Homo sapiens: one gene and its partners. The protein of the gene in region 1 purifies or fractionates together with the protein of each later gene. This does not show direct contact. Each region holds a gene or a part of one and is shown in the gene's direction. Other genes may lie near its edges. The genes, in order: LSG1, ZNF622, VPS8, TGFBRAP1 and VPS33A.

The links.
Region 2: the proteins of LSG1 (region 1) and ZNF622 purify together in Homo sapiens (affinity purification with western blotting; one study listed by BioGRID). This does not show direct contact.
Region 3: the proteins of LSG1 (region 1) and VPS8 purify together in Homo sapiens (co-immunoprecipitation; one large-scale study listed by IntAct). This does not show direct contact.
Region 4: the proteins of LSG1 (region 1) and TGFBRAP1 purify together in Homo sapiens (co-immunoprecipitation; one large-scale study listed by IntAct). This does not show direct contact.
Region 5: the proteins of LSG1 (region 1) and VPS33A purify together in Homo sapiens (co-immunoprecipitation; one large-scale study listed by IntAct). This does not show direct contact.

Annotation. Positions count from the first base shown.
Region 1 is NC_000003.12:194,661,945-194,666,140, reverse strand, and holds part of LSG1 (large subunit GTPase 1 homolog), read left to right. Parts: intron 1-497; coding exon 498-584; intron 585-4,196. UniProt on the Homo sapiens protein: Functions as a GTPase. May act by mediating the release of NMD3 from the 60S ribosomal subunit after export into the cytoplasm during the 60S ribosomal subunit maturation.
Region 2 is NC_000005.10:16,451,019-16,453,409, reverse strand, and holds the end of ZNF622 (cytoplasmic 60S subunit biogenesis factor ZNF622), read left to right. Parts: intron 1-253; coding exon 254-397; intron 398-1,625; coding exon 1,626-1,753; 3' UTR 1,754-1,891; downstream 1,892-2,391. UniProt on the Homo sapiens protein: Pre-60S-associated cytoplasmic factor involved in the cytoplasmic maturation of the 60S subunit.
Region 3 is NC_000003.12:185,045,755-185,049,919, forward strand, and holds part of VPS8 (vacuolar protein sorting-associated protein 8 homolog), read left to right. Parts: intron 1-2,724; coding exon 2,725-2,805; intron 2,806-4,165. UniProt on the Homo sapiens protein: Plays a role in vesicle-mediated protein trafficking of the endocytic membrane transport pathway.
Region 4 is NC_000002.12:105,263,559-105,267,665, reverse strand, and holds the end of TGFBRAP1 (transforming growth factor-beta receptor-associated protein 1), read left to right. Parts: intron 1-106; coding exon 107-283; 3' UTR 284-3,252; downstream 3,253-4,107. UniProt on the Homo sapiens protein: Plays a role in the TGF-beta/activin signaling pathway. It associates with inactive heteromeric TGF-beta and activin receptor complexes, mainly through the type II receptor, and is released upon activation of signaling.
Region 5 is NC_000012.12:122,235,137-122,239,332, reverse strand, and holds part of VPS33A (vacuolar protein sorting-associated protein 33A), read left to right. Parts: intron 1-608; coding exon 609-746; intron 747-3,409; coding exon 3,410-3,547; intron 3,548-4,196.

The DNA of each region.
Region 1 (4,196 bases):
TTACACAGCCATTTGTGTTTTGAAGTTTTGATTCTTTTAAGAAGGAAATGGTAGCATTCTGCTAACAAGTGCAAATAGATGTATGCACAAACAAGATTGCTAGGTGCAAATGCATCCTTGCACAGAGATCGTGAGTTGGTTACTCTGCTCAGTTCCGGGCCTTTTCCTTTCATTCCCTTCTTTGGCCATTGGGCATCCTGGAGTTGATCGCTGCTCTCCTGCACATTTTTCCAGTAAGAGTGTGGGAAAGAAATGACTTTGTGTGATAGGTAAACTTCCAGGGCATAAATAGCTTCAGGATAAAATTTGAATTTGGTGGAGTATTGTCTAAATAAATAGTATTTTTATGGTGTCTCAGCAGGAAATATATAAAATAATTTGACTCTGGATATTTGTGCCCAGTACTTATTTTTAATGTAATAAATTTGAGCATTTACACTGCTAAAAATTGTCTATTATAATCTGGCAAATATATAAACTTCTCATTCAAAAACTAGGCTAGAAGAGGAACAGAAGCTGATATTGACTCCATTTGAACGAAATTTGGACTTTTGGCGCCAGCTCTGGAGAGTCATTGAGAGAAGGTGAATTATCATTTTCTTTTGTGTAATAAAGACATTGTAGTGAAGTTATATTCGATTTGGCTGTTGATATAGGCTTATAGGCTCAGGGTATGGGAATTAAGCTATGCAGAGGGTTACTGAGAATTATAAAAACACAGCATGATACTACCGTATATTTTGTATAGTTTTTTTGTTGTTAGATGAATATGTTGATAAGTGTGTGAGAATAATGAACATTTTCTGCAAGGTGAATTCTGAAGCACCTATATAGATATTTTAGCAAATGTATATTTGGTTTCTACTGGTAATGTGGAAAATATGGATACGAAAAAGAGTTAAGTTCCTGCCTGCAAAGAGCATCTATGTTATGGGGAGAGGCGAATGTCAGAGCTCCTGTCAGCCGAGTTACACCATGTTCAGCTAAATGCTAAGCAAAGCACCAGGCACCAGGGACACACAGATGAATGACATGCAATTCTTGCACTCAGAAAACTTAATACGTAGTGAAATACAGAGGGCAGTATGATTCCTGCTTTGCTGCAGATAGAAAGGCAGTGGGCTGAGTCATAGCAGAGGAAGGAGTGGTTGATAAGTATTGAGGAAATCACGGGGTGGTTTTTATGTTTTTTATTTATTTATTTATTTATTTATTTATTTGAGACGGAGTTTTGCTCTTATTGCCCAGGCTGGAGTGCAATGGCACGATCTCAGCTCACCACAACCTCCGCCTCCTGGGTTCAAGCAGTGCTCCCGCCTCAGCCTCCCAAGTGGCTGAGATTACAGGCGCACACCACCACGCCCAGCTAATTTTTTTTTTTGTATTTTTAGTAGAGACAGGGTTTCACCATGTTGGTCAGGCTGGTCTCGAACTCCTGACCTCGTGATCCACCCGCCTCAGCCTCCCAAAGTGCTAGGATTACAGGCATGAGCCACCATGCCCGGCCTGGTTTTTATTTTTTTTAACTGGGCTCTGAAAAGAAGAGAATGATTTTGACAAATTGAGAATGGGAGATCTTTATTCTTTTTCATGTAATGCTAAGGAGAATTCCTGATTGTTAGAAGTTGATGAACACCTGTCTCTAATCTCACCTCTTTGGTATAGTTAAAAGGTTTCTGTTTTCCTCAAAGAGTTTCTGAATTACTTTCAAGGATGCCATAAATGAACCTTATATTTGAAATGTTTTCAACAAGGACCCTTCAGGCTGGTTTTTTTTCCTTTGAAATCTATAAAGTGAACCTAGTAAGAACACTAGGAAACAGAATGCTTTAATTGGGATTCTCAGAAAAGAATCTTATCACATTTAGCATTGTTATTAAGAAAACAGGGCCCAGCGCGGTGGCTCACACCTGTGATCCCAGCACTTTAGGAGGTCCAGGCAGGTGGATCACTTGAAGTCAGCAGTTCGATACCAGCCTGAGGAACGTGGTGAAACCCTGTCCCTACTAAAAATACAAAAATAGCCAGGCTTGGCTACTACTTGGGAAGCTGAGGCAGGAGAATCACTTGAATCCAGGAGGTGGAGGTTGCAGTGAGCCGAGATCGCACCACTGCACTCCAGCCTGGGTGACAGAGCAAGACTCTGTCTCCAAAAAAAAGAAAACAGTACTTGGACTAAACTTGTAAAAGTCACTTACATTTCCTATTAGGGTGATGACAAAGTCACTTGAATGCCCCCATCCTCAGCTCTCTACGGGTACAGAAAGGGCTCTTGGGCTGGGATGCGGGGAGGTCAGAGAAGCAAGGCAAATCTCTAAGGCAGAAGAAGGGAAAGGCTTTCTCTGAGGCAGAAGAAGGGAAAGGCTTTCTCTGAGGCGGAAGAAGGGAAAGGCTTTCTCTGAGGCGGAAGAAGGGAAAGGCTTTCTCTGAGGCGGAAGAAGGGAAAGGCTTTCTCTGAGGCGGAAGAAGGGAAAGGCTTTCTCTGAGGCGGAAGAAGGGAAAGGCTTTCTCTGAGGCGGAAGAAGGGAAAGGCTTTCTCTGAGGCGGAAGAAGGGAAAGGCTTTCTCTGAGGCGGAAGAAGGGAAAGGCTTTCTCTGAGGCGGAAGAAGGGAAAGGCTTTCTCTGAGGCGGAAGAAGGGAAAGGCTTTCTCTGAGGCGGAAGAAGGGAAAGGCTTTCTCTGAGGCGGAAGAAGGGAAAGGCTTTCTCTGAGGCGGAAGAAGGGAAAGGCTTTCTCTGAGGCGGAAGAAGGGAAAGGCTTTCTCTGAGGCGGAAGAAGGGAAAGGGTTTCTGCTGATTTGGGGTCCATGCAGGCTCCTTTTACTCAAGCTTGAGGAGGGCTTCGGAAGGCCCACAGTCATTCTCCTGGGGAACTGGGGAACTGCTGTGGAGCAGAGTAGCCTCTTCGTTGGTGCCTCCTTGGTAGTTGATGCTGTGTACTCCTGAGAATGCCCGTTTTCTAATTTCCGAAGAGAAATGGTAACAAGTGCAGAAGTACTGCAGCCCGGACCTTGAGGACAGCACCCTCCATCTTCACACTTAATTACAGTTTTTGTTTTGTTTTCAGATTTTGTCCTACTTCCTATATTATCTGTCTTTCCTCTTTGTTCCTTTTCTTTTTCTCCTGGTTTCTGACTTTTACGGAAGAGGCCTTCCTCAGGTGTCTAGTGGTGTTTATCTGTCTTTAAGAACAAAGCATTACAAAGCCGGTTGACAAGCCTGCCTGTTTAGGTGGAATTTGCCAACTGGTGAGCTTCACTGTAGGGTGCCTGGGCAGGGGTCAGTTTTATTTTGTTGGAATACCCCAAGATGTTAAGATCTGTAGGTCTTTTCCCCAGAGCCAGTCAGTTTTGTGTGTGTGTGGTTTTGTTTTGTTTTTTGAGACGGACTTTCGCTCTTGTTACCCAGGCTGGAGTGCAGTGGCGTGATCTCGGCTCACTGCAATCTCCACCTCCTGGGTTCAAGCGATTTTCCTGCCTCAGCCTCCCGAGTAGCTGGGATTACAGGCACGCGCCACCACGCCCGGCTAATTTTGTATTTTTAGTAGAGACGGGGTTTCTCCATGTTGGCCAGGCTGGTCTCGAACTCCTGACCTCAGGTGATCCACCCACTTCAGCCTCCCAAAGTGCTGGGGTTACAGGCATGAGCCACTGTGCCCAGTGCCAGTCAGTTTTTAAAAAGAAGAATGATCTCCTGCCAGGAAAGGGGCAGGAGGTGGTATAATACAAGGGTGCTGGGCACCTTCACAGTTCAGTATCTTCATAGGCTTATGCTGAATTCCCCTTTTTGCCCTATGGCAACTCTTTCCCATTTTCCCTGTGCCTGAGGTCCCAGTCCTGGAACTTGTCAAGTTCATTTTCTCCATAATAAACCCTAGCCTTCTGCTATTGGGGTGGGGAATGGGGGCTGTGTGGTGGGTTGCAGTTGCCTCACTGAATGGAACAGGGTAGCCGACCTATGAGCTCACTGTTCAGATGGATTACGGGCGCGGGCCTCGTTCTTGCCCTGGAGAGATAGAGCTGATGTTTCTAATACTGGGCTTTCTTGGGCGTCAGGGGCATGAACAGGTTTGCTTCTTGTTGGTTTGACATTTGGTTGCTGCTGTTCTTTCTCTTTATCCTAATGGGTTTCAGCCTTTGTTTTTGTAGGTTTTGAGAGGGAGCAGAGGTAACCATCTGTGTTCAGTTTAACAGGAAGC
Region 2 (2,391 bases), on another chromosome or scaffold:
ACTTGTCATTTTCTTTTTAAAAAATCTATTGTTTGGTTTTCTTTTTGTTGCATGCTTGCTTTCTTTCACTTTTTATTTTTATTTTACATGCTGCTTCATCTGTCTTTAGTAGATAGAACAACTGTTTCTTCTGGTACATCGATTTTCCATCTAGATATACTAAAAGATCTGATTTGGAAAGCCCTTGCTTTATAGCTCTGCCTTGAAAAAACTATCCAACTCAGTGTTTCAGTATTGCTCTTTTGAAAAACAGGTGCCAGAGTGGGTCATCGCTCCTTGATGAGATACTACAAACAGCGATTTGGCTTGTCAAGAGCTGTGGCAGTTGCCAAAAATCGGAAGGCCGTGGGCCGAGTACTTCAGCAGTACAGAGCCCTGGGATGGACTGGCAGCACAGGTACATTGATCTTTACAACTACAGACCAGTCTGAGAACTTGTATTTCTAGAAGGGGTCTGGGGAAAGTTGTTTCCATTTATGTTGTCCATGTGGATTCTCTCTAGGGGAAACGTAACGTCTTGGCTCCAGGGACTTCCATTACCACTTGATATGTTTAAGGCAATAAGCCCAAAGTGCTATGACTTAGAAATTTCATATTCCTGGCACAGTGATTTTATATACCATTAACTTTTTCAGAAGATAATAGTTACAAAAAGAATTATTTAGTAATCACCAAAGGTTGAAATTATCCTGGAGGTTATGCAGAGGAATTAGATAGTATCCTAGTGGTTAATAGCTTGAGCTGTGGAGTCAGACGTGACTTATGTGATGTACTTAGAGGTTCTTATATGATGAACATGAGTAATTTAATTAATATAAGCTTCTGTTTCCTCATTTATAAAACAGAGATGATAGTAATAAGACCTACCTCTTAGAGTTGAGTGGGTTGAATGTCATGCATGTGTGATATAGTGCATGCCCATAGTCGAGGTTAGCTATCAGTCCCCTTTTTTGTAATTTTCCCATAGAAAATTTAGCAAAAGTTAGAAGAGTAAAGCATGCCACTGCAATTGTTGAGTTTTGAAACCTCATCAGTATGGTACTCTTTACATCTATTCTGATGTGTCTGCTGGATGAAGCTGGTTATATCCTTAGATCTTCAGGGAAAGCATCTATCCAACTGAGGACTGTGGAGAAAATAAGAGGCGGGCTGCCTTCTGATGGCCTGGGAAGCTCTAGGCAACTAAAATCCATTTGAAAAGGCACTGTGTTTATATGTGGTTTCCTTCACTGTGGCTGCTTGTGAGCTGTGTGGCCACTTGAATCTGGCAGAGACTTGACTTCATCTTACTCTTATCAGGAAGTATTGTCTGACTCGATATATAGCTTCTGCCTTTCTGATTAATGGGGCTTTACCTTTTGGGCTTATAAACTCTTCCAGATGATGAAAACTAAAGCTACTAATCCCAGATAAGTGTATATATACAAAAGTTCTGGTATGCAATTCTGGAGTCCACAGAGACCCCTGAGGCGCATGGCTTAGAGACCCCAAGTTAGCAACTCTGTTTTAAATACAAGAACCTAGTTACCCCAAACTAACCTTTTGAATTCTCTGCCAAGGTTGGATTTTCTCTGATCACAAATAACAGAACTTTGCCTAATTTCTTAACTGCCTTCCAATCATAGGAGCGGCTCTTATGCGAGAGCGAGACATGCAGTATGTCCAAAGGATGAAATCAAAATGGATGCTGAAGACAGGAATGAAGAACAATGCCACCAAGCAGATGCACTTTCGGGTCCAAGTGAGATTCTGAGAGTCTGCTGGGATTGAGCAATCATCTCCTGCCCAAGTTTCCTCCTTGCCCTGAGGACCAGTGAAAGACAGATCATAGGAGAGACCCTTTTGCTGCTACTTCATTCGTTCTGACCTAATAATAAAAGTTAGAACCATATGAGTTTTCAGATGTCGTTTTTGAATAGTGTTGAAAGGTTATGTTTTCACAAGGTAAGTCCTGTGTCTACTGGACCCTGGGACTTGCACTGCTGCCTGACAGTTGCTTCATCGCCTCAGCTTTAAATGATTTATGATTGTCAGAGTAATGTGAGGAATCAGGAATGACTTGTGTGCCCCAAACTTAGTTTAACTTTGAGAGTAACTCACCATGTCATGGCACTGGGACCTATGTAAGGGGGCTTGAAGGCTTATGTAGGGGCAAAGTTGAATGTCACTCATGGAATGTATCATGGTACAGGAGGTACTGAATATCTCTGGGCGCTTGCATTAAATCCAGGCTAAGTTAAAAAGCACATCAATAGCTTGCTGTAAAGGTTTTATATTTCTAAACATGACTGCACAGAGTGACTACTGTGTAGTCTGATGCAGTTTCCAGTGGTGCAGTTAGTCTAGGAGGAAAGTAAAGGTAAAATGCTTAGGTATCATTTTAGAAAGACT
Region 3 (4,165 bases), 9.6 Mb from region 1:
AGACTCCGTCTAAAAAAAAAAAAAAAAAAAAGAGGTCTGTGGATCCTGAAAGCCCTGATTTGTTTTCTTCCTTCCAGCGGATGTAGTTACTGCTCCCACTTCCACATCTGTGAGTCACTGAGCTTTGCAATGTGCTGGCACCCCATGTTAGCCCAACACCCCTCTCCCTGGGGCTCTCAGAGATCATCAGGACCTCGTTTTCCACAGGATTTCCTTTAATGCTGAGTACTACAAGGTCATTTCCAGGGTTGCCACTGTTTCTTCCTCTCGTATTCACTACAGTTTAATTTTTAGCTCTTAACACTGGACTTTGTTACATGGGAAGAAAGAAATTTGCTCTAACAGACAGCAGCAAATGCATTTTTCCTTCTCTTCCAGTTGGAAAATCACTCCTAACCAGTTTTATCCTTGGGGAGGTTTAGTGGTCTGAGAATACTTTTATGTTTTTGGAGTGAACAGAGATTATGTTCATATTTGGTTGCTTCCCCTTTATTTTTTGTCTGACCTTAATTTGGCATCTGTAGACGGAAACTGTTACTTATCTTCAGGGCTGCCATGTATCTTTGTGACATTGCCCCTAATTTGCTTCTGAATATGCAGTAAAAGATAAAAGCCATGATTAGGCTCAGTAAACATTACTGTTTTTCTTGAAACTTTCATGCCCTAAATGCCTGTTAATCTCATGGTGCCCACCTCTTCCCTGGATGGTGGAGTGTGGCCTGAGGTGGCATTGCCCTTTGATCAATTGGAACAAAGACTCAGAGGAGAGATGTGACCTCCTCAGGTTATACAGGGAGCTGGTAACAGGATTGGAGCCCATGTTTCCTGATTTCATCCCATTGTTCTTTCTAGGGGGACACTTCTCTCTGGGAGTATAAACAACACAATCGCAGTAATTACTGCCATTGATTGAACATCAAATAGATGCCAAGCCCATACATTATGTCTAATTTTCATAACAATTCTGCAAAGTAGAGTTTTACAGATAAAGAAACTGAGACTGAGAGAAGCTAAATTCCTTGCCCAGAGCCACTCACCTAGTCTTGGGCAGAGTCCAGATTGAGCCCAAGTGTGTCAGAGCCCTGCCCTGTGTTCTTACTGCATGGCGAGGGTTGGTCACAACGCCAGTGATAAATAGTAAGAAATCAGAAATCTGCATGCCGGCCCTCCCATCCCTTCATTTGATCAGCAGATGATGACTCTGTGGCTGCTCTGTGCAAGCACAGTACTGGGCACTGGTGAGCAAGACAGAGGGAGCTGACCTTAGCAGCTCTCATTTCCATAAAGTTTTCCCTCTCACACTCGGCATACCCTCTCCTGCACATCCCCCAACCTCCTTCATTACCCAGTTTTGCCTGTGCACGTTGCTCTGATGTCCCCTTCCTTTCTGTTTCTGTAGCCACATCAGGACGAGGGCCACATGATGTTGCTTCTTGGAGACTGGCTCTGTGCGCAGTACCTGCGGGCCTTCCTGTGCTCTCTAGTTAGTAGCGCTCAGTGAGAACTTGCAGAGTCCCGTGCATCTGCTACGTGTTCTGTGTGCATTACCTTCTTGAATCTTCATAGCCACTTTATGTGATGTAGCTATAGTCATTATCCCCATGTGAGCAAAAACAAACAAACAAGCAAAAAGTACCCAACTCGGAGAACTTGCCTAAGATTATGCTGCTAGTAATTGCTAAAGCCAGGGTTTGGGCTTAGGCTGATGAACTCTGCAGTGCAGGCTCTTACCCACCAACCTGTGCAGTGCAGACGCTTGGGACAGGTTCATGATATAGGGCAAAGAAAAACGTCCTTTTACCAATCTTATACATAAACAAAAACACTTCTGAAATCAACTTTTAACTATGGGTATCTCTGAATTGTAAGAAAAGCTAGCGTATACTGAGCCCTCGCCTGGTACTAGGCAGGCGACACTTTAAATATATATCTCATTTAATTTTTGGTAATCTCAAAAGGTAAGCATTACCCCTTCCTTCCCACAGGTGAGGCAATTGAGGCTTAGAGAAGTGAGGTGACTTGCCTAAAGTTACATAGCAGGTTACTGTCAGAACTAGTATCCAGATTCTCCTCTGACTCCAAAGCTTATGGCCGCCTCCCCCAGGATCCCATTTCTTCTCTCTGCATATGAGCTGGATCAGGTCCACTGAGAGAAGAACCGCAGTTTGGCAGGTCCCACCACAATAACAGGTGGAACAAAACATGGCTGCTGTAAGAGCAGGCTAGACCGGCCCTTTTCCCAAAAGCAGCAGACGAATCTTGCAACCCCATAGGTGGCGACCAGCTTTATAATGAGACAGGGATGAGATTTTTAAATGACAGTGCGTCTCCTGTTACCATGACAGAGAAAAGCGGTATCTTTGCTGGCCGTATGAAGTGATGGACATGGGAATGCAAGGCTGGAAGGAACTAACTAGCTCTGCATAATGGTGCCAAAGAGGGATCAAGAAACCTGAAAGGAACCTATACATACGGGACATTTGGAGACTCCATTGGGAAAAGGGTCCACAGACAGGTCAACCTGCAGCCACACCAAGGAGGGATCTTAGGGGACGTGCCGATTTCTAACTCATGTTCAGTATATATCTCACTAATAGCTGGTAGCATGGATTGTTTTCAGGAGAATGAAGGAAGCACCATGTTATGCTTCAGCATCGTGTAGAGCAAGTTGAGAGGCTGCCTAGCCACGTGATGTTGTTAATCGTATCGGTTTTTATTTTTCAGGGAACCTCAGAACCTGTTCTGGATCCACAGCAAATCCAAGCATTTGATCAGCTTTGCCGTCTCTACCGAGGAAGCTCCAGGGTAATGTTTGCGTGGTTGTTTATATTTTTATTTCCCTATTTATAGTTTACTGCTTTAGACAGGCAGTGTCTTGGAACCTCCCTCTAGCCTCCTTCTAGCCTGGAAGGTGCCCTGGCATCCCTGTTATGGCTACATGGACAACAGACCCTGGCCCCAAGGAGCACTCAGAGCTTGGCAAAGAGAGCAAAGGAAGTAGAAAGCTGTCTGTCCCCTACGTACCATGAGCTGTGAGGACACAGAAGGGCCTCTGTGTTTGACCTCCCTCCAGAGAGAGCAGGCCAGAAGGTTGATCCCAGGAGGGCTTTGCTTAGGATATGGATAGGTGCCCAATCTGTCCGAAGCCCTAGACCCTCCTGGGCATCTGCACTGGTTGAATTAGTTTTGGCCATGAAAGACAAATGCAAAGTAGTAGTGGTTTAAGCAAGAGAGAAGTGTAAATGCAGCCAGCCAGGGCACATCCACGTACCTCCCTTCAGCTTTCTTCTGTCCTGTTGCTCTGCCTTCCTTAGCACATGACTTAAACTCGTATGGTTCAACATGGTTGCTTCCACTTACCTCCACTGTCTAGAATTTAGACCCATGACCATACCTCACTGCAATGGAGACTGGGAAAATTGATTTTTATTCCAAAAGACCTTGGGCTACAATTCTTGGTCTAATCTAACTGTGGAAGAAGAGTACAGACTGGAGGGCTTCTATCAGTCACTGCCACCACATCAGACCGGGTGTCCCCCAGGCACTTTGGACATGTACTCATCGCTTTCTCGACCTGTTCTTCATGCCTGGTGCCTGCCTCAGGAATGATACCTCTGTCATCCAACCACCTAGAGCAGAGACCTGGCAGCACTAGGCTCACTCCTCACCTTCCTGCCACCTGACTGGGGACATCCTGTGGGATCTTGTCTACTAATCCCTCTTTTACCACTACCCCGGGTGGGGCCTCCTTATCACTCACGGAGGCCACTGCAGGTCTTCTGATTGGCTAGAAACCCTTCTGTCCCCTCTCCATGCTGCTGCCTGGCTACCCTTTCTAAAACCAAGTATGTCATGTTACTCCCTTGCTTATAACACATTCTGGATCTCCACCACCTAAAGAATGAGTCCAAACCCTACCATCTTCTTCACTCCCCAAATCACACCTCAATTCTAGGTGGTCCCATTTGTTCCTGAGCTTGTCTCGAGCTTGTGCAAACTGCTGTGTCCTCTGCTTCTCTACCTGGGCCCCCTTCACGCACTCCCCTTTCTTAGGCAGAACCTACTAGGTTACTTGGCAGCCGGAGGAAAGAGTGGTGCTCCTTCTTTGAGAGTTGGTGTGGGCAGAGGTTGTTATTCCAGGAAGTTTCTCTAGGGGTCTCCTGGA
Region 4 (4,107 bases), on another chromosome or scaffold:
TAATAACCCATGGAGTAATGCATGTCAACTCTGCAAAACTAGAACGTAGCCACTTTAAATATACTTAACACATGACAGCATTCTCAGTCTTGGTTTCTTCTTGCAGATGAAGTTGAAAGGAAGCTCAATCCAACTCTCAGACAAAAAGCTTTGTCAGATATGCCAAAATCCCTTTTGTGAGCCTGTGTTTGTTAGATACCCAAATGGTGGTCTTGTGCACACCCACTGTGCCGCCAGCAGACACACAAACCCCAGCTCATCCAGTCCTGGCACTCGGACTTGAAAAGCTTGGCCCAAGGGTGCGAGGGGAACTCCGAGTTCTTTCTGAGCCTGCTGGACATGAAGAGCAGATGACCACCATGCTCTGTGTCAGCCAGGACGAAGGGAGACATCTGGGTGCCAGGGAGCCTTCCGTCCATACGCAACAAGGACTCCTCGCTGCTGACCAGGCTCTATGAATGTACATGGAATGACCAGGCTCTATGAATGTACATGGAAAACCCCTAAAAATCCCCAAAACAGAAACATACAAGAGTTCACCTGTCCAGGTACATAGTAATCCAAGACAGAGGTCTACTTTGAAAAAAAAAAAAAGGGAGTCTTCCTCATGCAGTCCAGACCCAGGTGGGGGATCCCCCACCACCCCCACACTCCAACCTTTAGACTCATGTTTGCACTGGAAACGTGGCTTCACCATGGCTGGCGACAAAGTCCTCTCTTGCCTGGGTGAGTGGCGAGGGCACAGAGCCTCATGGGGGTCAGCCTTGCCCTCCTGCAGAAACACGTTCTCCATCCACGCCGCTCACTCATGGGCCCATTTCCCAGGGTTACCTCGTGGGCTCTGCCTTTGCCCTCAGAAACGGCTGACCCTGGAGAAGTACCTTTGTTCCTTCTTTCTTCCTCTCCGGCTCTCAGCTCCCAAAAGATTCTGCCTTGTGTACCCAAGCACTCACTCTTGGGTGAACTAATGCTTCTGGCTGCCTAGCAAGTGAAGATCTGTTGAGAAACTGAGAACGCTCCAAGAGAGAAGCTGCTCTCCCCTCCTTGAAGAAGCCGCGGACACGGGAAACCCACGGCGGGCAAGGGCCCAGCTGTGTGCTCCTTTCCTGTCATGGCATCTGCTGATTTGAAACTCCATGACGAACACGTTGAACTAAACATTTTTATTTAAATTTGTATCATGTTCGTAGTTGCTCTCTTGTTGAGAGAGTCATCTGTCCTGTTTGTTAGGGGTATTTTTTCTTGTTAAAATGTATCTCCTGTTGAATACTCGGGAAATTCAAAGGGAAGTGTGGTCAGCACACACTGAGCGTTCTTTTCTGGAGAGGCCGGTTTTAGCCTCGTACCTTTAGCAGGACCGACAGCGGGTGGAAGGGCCCGTGTGCTGGATGGGGGTGTCGCCTCCTGGATGGCACACCCTCCCGAGGACATCCAGACAGGCTGTGTCACCCTCCAGCACTTTATGTGCCTGCTCTGAGGTGTCCTGAACACACAGCAACGGCCTCTCCTTCATCACAGGCCGGGGATTCCTTTTGTGTTTCTGTATAACATCGATGACGAGCTGAAGCTGTTGTCACTTCACTGCCCTCTTTGGAATTTCTTCATTGTGCTGACTGATTCTATTAGGGGCTAACAATAAAGGCAGTCTACCCACTACTATCATGCTTGGGAAACAAGCGTCAGCTTGTACATATGACAAGAGAGGACCCTGAATACACCCTCTCTTCATCAGCCCAAGCCTTACTGAGGTGGGATGAAGACCTCATTCTCTGTTCTTTAAAACATGTTTCGTGAACTAATATTGGTCCATGTATTTTTTGTCCTTTTGGGACTCTAAGTGGGTCAAGAAGCAAAAACATCCATGTGTTGTTTGGGGGGAATTGGCACCATTTTTTCCTGACTATGTTTCAATTAACTAAAGAATAAATGATGAAGAAATTCTCCTTGTAGCACAACTGTATGCTGTGTAAATTGGTGTGAGCTCAAAGCCCAGTCATGTGTTTTACCTGTGGGTGACTCTGTTGTAGAATGGTCATATTACTGCATATGTTATCATGACAACTTGTGAGTTTGAGTTTATATTTCTCAAAGAACAAGTTACCCGTATATGCAACATTGCGCCATTAAAAGCTTATTTCTCTGTACACAAAATGGGTAAAATCTTGAAAAAACTTAGTAATTTCTCATTCCTAACACACAGACAGAGTCTCACTCTGTCACCCAGGCTGGAGTGCAGTGGCGCAATCTCGGCTCACTGCAACCTCCACCTCCTGGGTTCAAGCGATTCTGCTGCCTCAGCCTCCCGAGTAGCTGGGACTACAGGTGCATGCCACCACGCCCAGCTAATTTTTGTATTTTTAGTAGAGACGGGGTTTCACCATGTTGGCCAGGATGGTCTCGGTCTCCTGACCTCGTGATCTGCCTGCCTCGGCCTCCCAAAGTGCTGGGATTACAGGCGTGAGCCACTGCGCCCAGCCAACACTAGTCATTTTTATTTTTTCACTGAACATTGATCAATACTCTAAAATGTTTGTCATCCTTTAGAATAATGGGAATTAAAGTTGAGCAGTTTTCCATCTCTACCAAATCCTTCACCACAAGCAGCATTCTATTACAGTATGAAGAATTGTCTCATATGTTAAAACTGTACTTTTCTCTAACCTTTCTCTCACTCCTACAAGGCCCTTTTCTCAAATCATATTTCTGAGAGAAATGTATGGTTCTTTCTCACAGGCCTGCTGATTTGTAACTGTGCCATCGAATAGAGCAATTAGATCCATCAGACCTTTTTCCCCTCATTAGGTTCAGTGGAACCATTCTGGTTAAAACAGCATGAACTGAACTCAGTTTACATTCATATTCTATGGGCAATACCATTTGGTTTTTGGAACTGTTTATCTGCTGTTCCCTATCAAGTATTAATGTAGGGATGTCACTCAGGCTGCGTTGCACTGGGCTGAGTTCAACTGCGACGCTCTCACTGACGCGTGCTTACATGTGCTTCTCACTTCCGGAGCACAGGCAGGTGGCTGCGGGGTCCCAGCTCTGAATGGATGCCCATGATGCAACTGGGGCAGCCCTTGCTTTTTGCTTGCTCTCCCACAGAAACCTTTGTCCTTGCAACTTTATCCTTTGTCCCGATTGGGTCCCAGATACACAAAATGTACAAATGTAAACTTGCTCATTTTATTAAAATTCTTTTAGTTCTTTGTTCTTTCTGTAATTTTTTAAAATAAAAATTGCCTTGATGGAGTGATGGTTTTCACTCGCACCATACCTAGTCTAAATAAAGAGTTCTAGAATCTGTACCTTCTTGCTTTTCCTAGCACCTACAGAGGACTTGAGTTGCCAACCCCTTAAATTCTGCTATTGTTTTACCAAATTTTAACGTGTCTGCTTCTGAATTTACCCAATGCATATTTTAGGGTGCTCCTTGACATTGGTTGCCATCAGATTAATCATGCACTGAGGAATTCAACCAGGGAGACTTCTGATTACTTCTTATCTACTTTACCTTTTAGCCAGATACTCTTAAATAAGGCTGCACTCTTGGATTTCTAACCCTGAGCATATTCAAAGAACATAACTCTTACAAAATCGTACCTTTTAAATTTTGCTTCATCCCCTACACTGTTGTTGATGGCAGGTCTTTCAGCTATCCTGTTGAATTTCAGAGCACTTTCTCATGTTCTTTAATTCCAGGTGCTATTCCCACCCTGAAGAAAGGGGTATGTTCACACACATGATAATCCTCTGAGTTGTTTTGTTTTGTTTTTTATGAGATGGAATTTCGCTCTTGTTGCCTATGCTGGAGTGCAATGGTGTGATCTCGGCTCACTGCAACCTCCACCTCCCGGGTCCAAGTGATTCTCCTGCCTCAGCCTCCCGAGTAGCTGGGATTACAGGTGCCCGTCCACCACACCCAGCTAATTTAAAAAATATATATTTTTAATAGAGACAGAGTTTCACCATGTTGGCCAGGCTGGTCTTGAACTCCTGACCTCAGGTGATCCACCTGCCTTGGCCTCCTAAAATGCTGGGATTACAGGCGTGAGTCACCATGCTTGGCCCCCCGAGTATTCTGACCCTATTTCATTTCAGTGGATT
Region 5 (4,196 bases), on another chromosome or scaffold:
CCTAAAATCAAATCTTTTTAAGACTGTATTAGATAAGGTATTTGCTCTTTTGAAAGAGTTTCTTATATAACTCCTTTAAATAGCTCTATTAACAAATTTTAAATTATTCACTTTATGAAAATTCCTAACATAAAACAATTACTGATACTTTTTGCTAGATTAGTTGTTGATACTATTGAAATGGAGTAGACATCTGGTAGCCTCTCAGAAGCGTGTCCTTAGAGACAGACGTGTCCAGACAGGCATATGGAGTGACCAATTGTATTCTCAGCGGCCTTGGGCTCCAGTGACTTGGCCTGATCACTGGGGGGTGTGTGTGTGTGTGTGTGTGTGTGTATGTATGTATGTGTGTGTGGGGTGTGTGTGTGTGTGTGGTGGCCAGGGTGTGTGTGTGGCTGGGGCTAGCAGAGCTATTTCGGGGAAGGGTTAGGGACTGTGGAAAAATAACTCATTTTCCCACGTATCTCCTTTATTGGACTTTGAAAAATAATAATAAACATCAAGTTAAGTTCCTAAACCATGTATTGTGTGTGTGTGTGTGTGTGTGTGTGTGTGTGTGTGTATGTATATGTAAATGTATATGTATATGTATGCTACTTTATTTCCAGGTCAACAATTACATTGAGGATTGTATCGCCCAAAAGCACTCGTTGATCAAGGTGTTAAGACTAGTTTGCCTCCAATCCGTGTGTAATAGTGGGCTCAAACAAAAAGTTTTGGATTATTACAAAAGAGAGATTCTCCAGGTGAGTATATTTTTAAATTATTAATTTGCCAAGGGGGACAGCATCTTTTTAAAAAATACTTCATGGGCCGGGCACAGTGGCTTACGCCTGTAATCCCAGCACTTTGGGAGGCCAAAGCAGGTGGATCACTTGAGGTTAGGAGTTTGAGACCAGCCTGGCCAACATGGTGAAACCCCCATCTCTATTAAAAATACAAAAATTAGCCAGGCATGGTAGCATGCACCTGTAGTCCCAGCTATTTGAGAGGATCAGGCAGGAGAATCGCTTGAACGCAGGAGGCGGAGGTTACAGTGTGTCAAGATCATGCCCCTGCACTCCAGCCTGGGCAACAGAGTGAGACTCTGTCTCAAAAAATAATAATAAAAAATTTAAAATTAAAAAAAATAAAAATTACAAAGCTGCCATTTTGGTATCTTGTAACGACTGTTGTATAAATTTTTTAACACCTAGAGGAATTGGTCTTGGTAGCCATCACTGTTTATTGTATTTGTGTGATAATAATAGCTAACAGGCTGGGCACAGTGGCTCACCTCTGTTATCTCAATATTTTGTGGGGCTGAGGCAGGAGGATCGCTGGAGGCCAAGACCAGCCTGGCAACATAGCAAGACCCTGTCTCTACAAAAAAAATACAAAAATTTACCAGGCATGGTGGCTGTGTCTGCAGTCCCAGCTACCCAGGAGGCTGAGTTAGGAGGATTGCTTGAGCCCAGGAGTCCAAAACCAGCCTAGGCAACATAGCTTGTTTACAAAAAGTAAAAAATAATAATAATAGGTAACATTTCTTGAGCATTTACTATGTGCTAGGATCTATTGGAAAAACTTTATAGGCCGGGCGCGGTGGCTCTGTACCCTGACTCTACTAAAAATACAAAAAATTAGCCGGGCGCGGTGGCGGGCGCCTGTAGTCCCAGCTACTCGGGAGGCTGAGGCAGGAGAATGGCGTGAACCCGGGAGGCGGAGCTTGCAGTGAGCCGAGATTGCGCCACTGCAGTCCGCAGTCCGGCCTGGGCGACAGAGCGAGACTCCGTCTCAAAAAAAAAAAAAAAAAAAAGAAAAACTTTATGTGCATTCATTTGTTTCATCTTCACAATACTTCCTTGTTAACTGTAGTTACCATAACAACAACAACAAATATTCACAACAGCCTTGTGAGTTAGAGACTGCTATCGTCCCAGTTTTATGGATGAAAAACTGAGGCACAGACTAGTTTAGGTAACTCACCCAAGGTTACCTGGCTGGTAAGTGGCACAGCCAGTGGTAAACCAGGCAATTTGAGTGTAGCGCCCATGTTCTTAACTCCGCAGTTATACCACGGAGGAAAAGAACTTTCTGCAAATTTCTGATGACAGTTGCTTAGCAGGTTTACTTAAATTAAGCCTGTGTTACTTATAATAAGGAAAAGGCCACTCTTGTTTTTGAAAAGTCTCCCCTTTGTTTGAAAATGACTCAGGTAGTATTTATTTGCTGTTACCAGTGACAGTTAAGTACATTTTTATTAAAATTGAGTGCTCATTAATTTTTTGTTTTTGTCTTTTTTTAAGTTATGTATCCTTGTGTAAGAGTCAAATAATGCAGAAGTACACAGAGCAAAATGTGAACGTCCCCTGTACCTTGCTCATACCCCAGTTTCCCTCCCCAGATGTGACCAGTGTCAGCAGTCTGATTTGCTTCCTTCCAAACTCCATTCTTTGCATTTAGACAGAATGTTTCCATACACAGACTTCAGAGCAAGACTGGCTGGATCCAGGTTTCAGCTCTGCTCTTCACTAGCTGTGTGACTTTAGGCAGGTTATTTAAACATCTCTGTAAAATGAAGGTAATGATACCTACGTCATGGGGTTAGAGCCGGGATGACTGAGTTAATGTATGTAAGTGCTTAGACCAGAACAGTGCCCAGCTCATAGAAAGTATTTTATAAGTGTTGGCTACTTTTTAAAATTTATTTATTTTTTGAGACAGTATCTCACCCTGTTGCCCAGAGTGGAGTGCAGTGGCACAATCTTGGCTCACTGTAACCTCCTGGGTTCAAGCGATTCTCCTGCCTCAGCCTCCCGAGTAGCTGGGATTACAGGTACATGCCACCAGGCCCAGCTAATTTTTTAATTTTTAGTAGAGACAGGGTTTCACCATGTTGGCCAGGCTGGTCTCAAACTCCTGACTTCAAGTGATTGGCCCGCCTCGGCCTCCCAAAGTACTGGGATTACAGGTGTGAGCCAGCATGCCCAGACCTTGGCTACTTTTTAAAAATAGAAATAATGTCCTACTCTACATGTTATTTTTTTTTTAATATATTCTGGAGACCTTTCTTATCAGGATGTATACATATGCCTTACTCTTTTTTAGAGCTAATTATATCCCTTATAAAAATATACTATCATTTATTTGATGCTTGCTTAGATTGGGTCCATAAATTCTGACTTTAAAGTAAAAATTTTAAATTTCTCTTTGAAACAGTGAGCTGAATTAATAGTAACAGGCAAGCAGTTTTAGGACAAGTTTCATCCCTCCACCCTGTCCTCTGTGCCCATCCACTAACATTGCTGGACTTTGGTAACATGTCCTGCAGTACAAACCAAATTGATTTGTTGGAAGTGCCCTTCTTTGAAAATTGCAGAAATCCTTTTCCTGATCTGACATCAAGGCCAAATGACTTCCCTTGCAGACATACGGCTATGAGCACATATTGACCTTACACAACCTGGAGAAGGCCGGCCTGCTGAAACCGCAGACGGGGGGCAGAAACAATTACCCAACTATACGGAAAACATTACGCCTCTGGATGGATGATGTTAATGAGCAAGTAAGCCACACTTCTCCACCTCGTCTCAGCTTAGGGACTGGTTAGATCGTCCAGGTGACAACACATGCTTCTGAACCTACACATCTGCCTTGCTTTCTGAAAACAATTTTCTAATGTTTTTGAAAAAGTAATGTATGCATGTATTGTATCCATCAGAATCCTAGAAGGACACAGAGAATGCTCTTAAACTGGGGAGTTTCTGGAGAGTTTAATAAAGATGTGGGCTGGGCGCGGTGGCTCACACCTATAATCCCAGCACTTTGGGAGGCCGAGGCGGGCAGATCACTTGAGCTCAGGAGTTTGAGAACAGCCTGACTAACATGGGAAACCCCATCTCTACTAAAAATACAAAAATTAGCCCAGCATTGTGGTGCGTGCCTGTAATCCCATCTACTTGGGGGGCTGAGGCAGGAGAATTGCTTGAACCTGGGAGGCGGAGGTTGTAGTGAGCTCAGATCATGCCATTGCACTCCAGCCTGGGCGACAGAGCAAGACTCTGTCTCAAAAAAAAAAAAAAAAAAGTTATGGGGCAGGCTCGGTGGCTCATTCTTGTAATCCCAGTATATTGGGAGGCTGAAGGGTCAGATCGCTTGAGTCCAGGAGTTCGAGACCAGCCTGGGCAACATGGCAAAACCTTGTCTCTACAAAA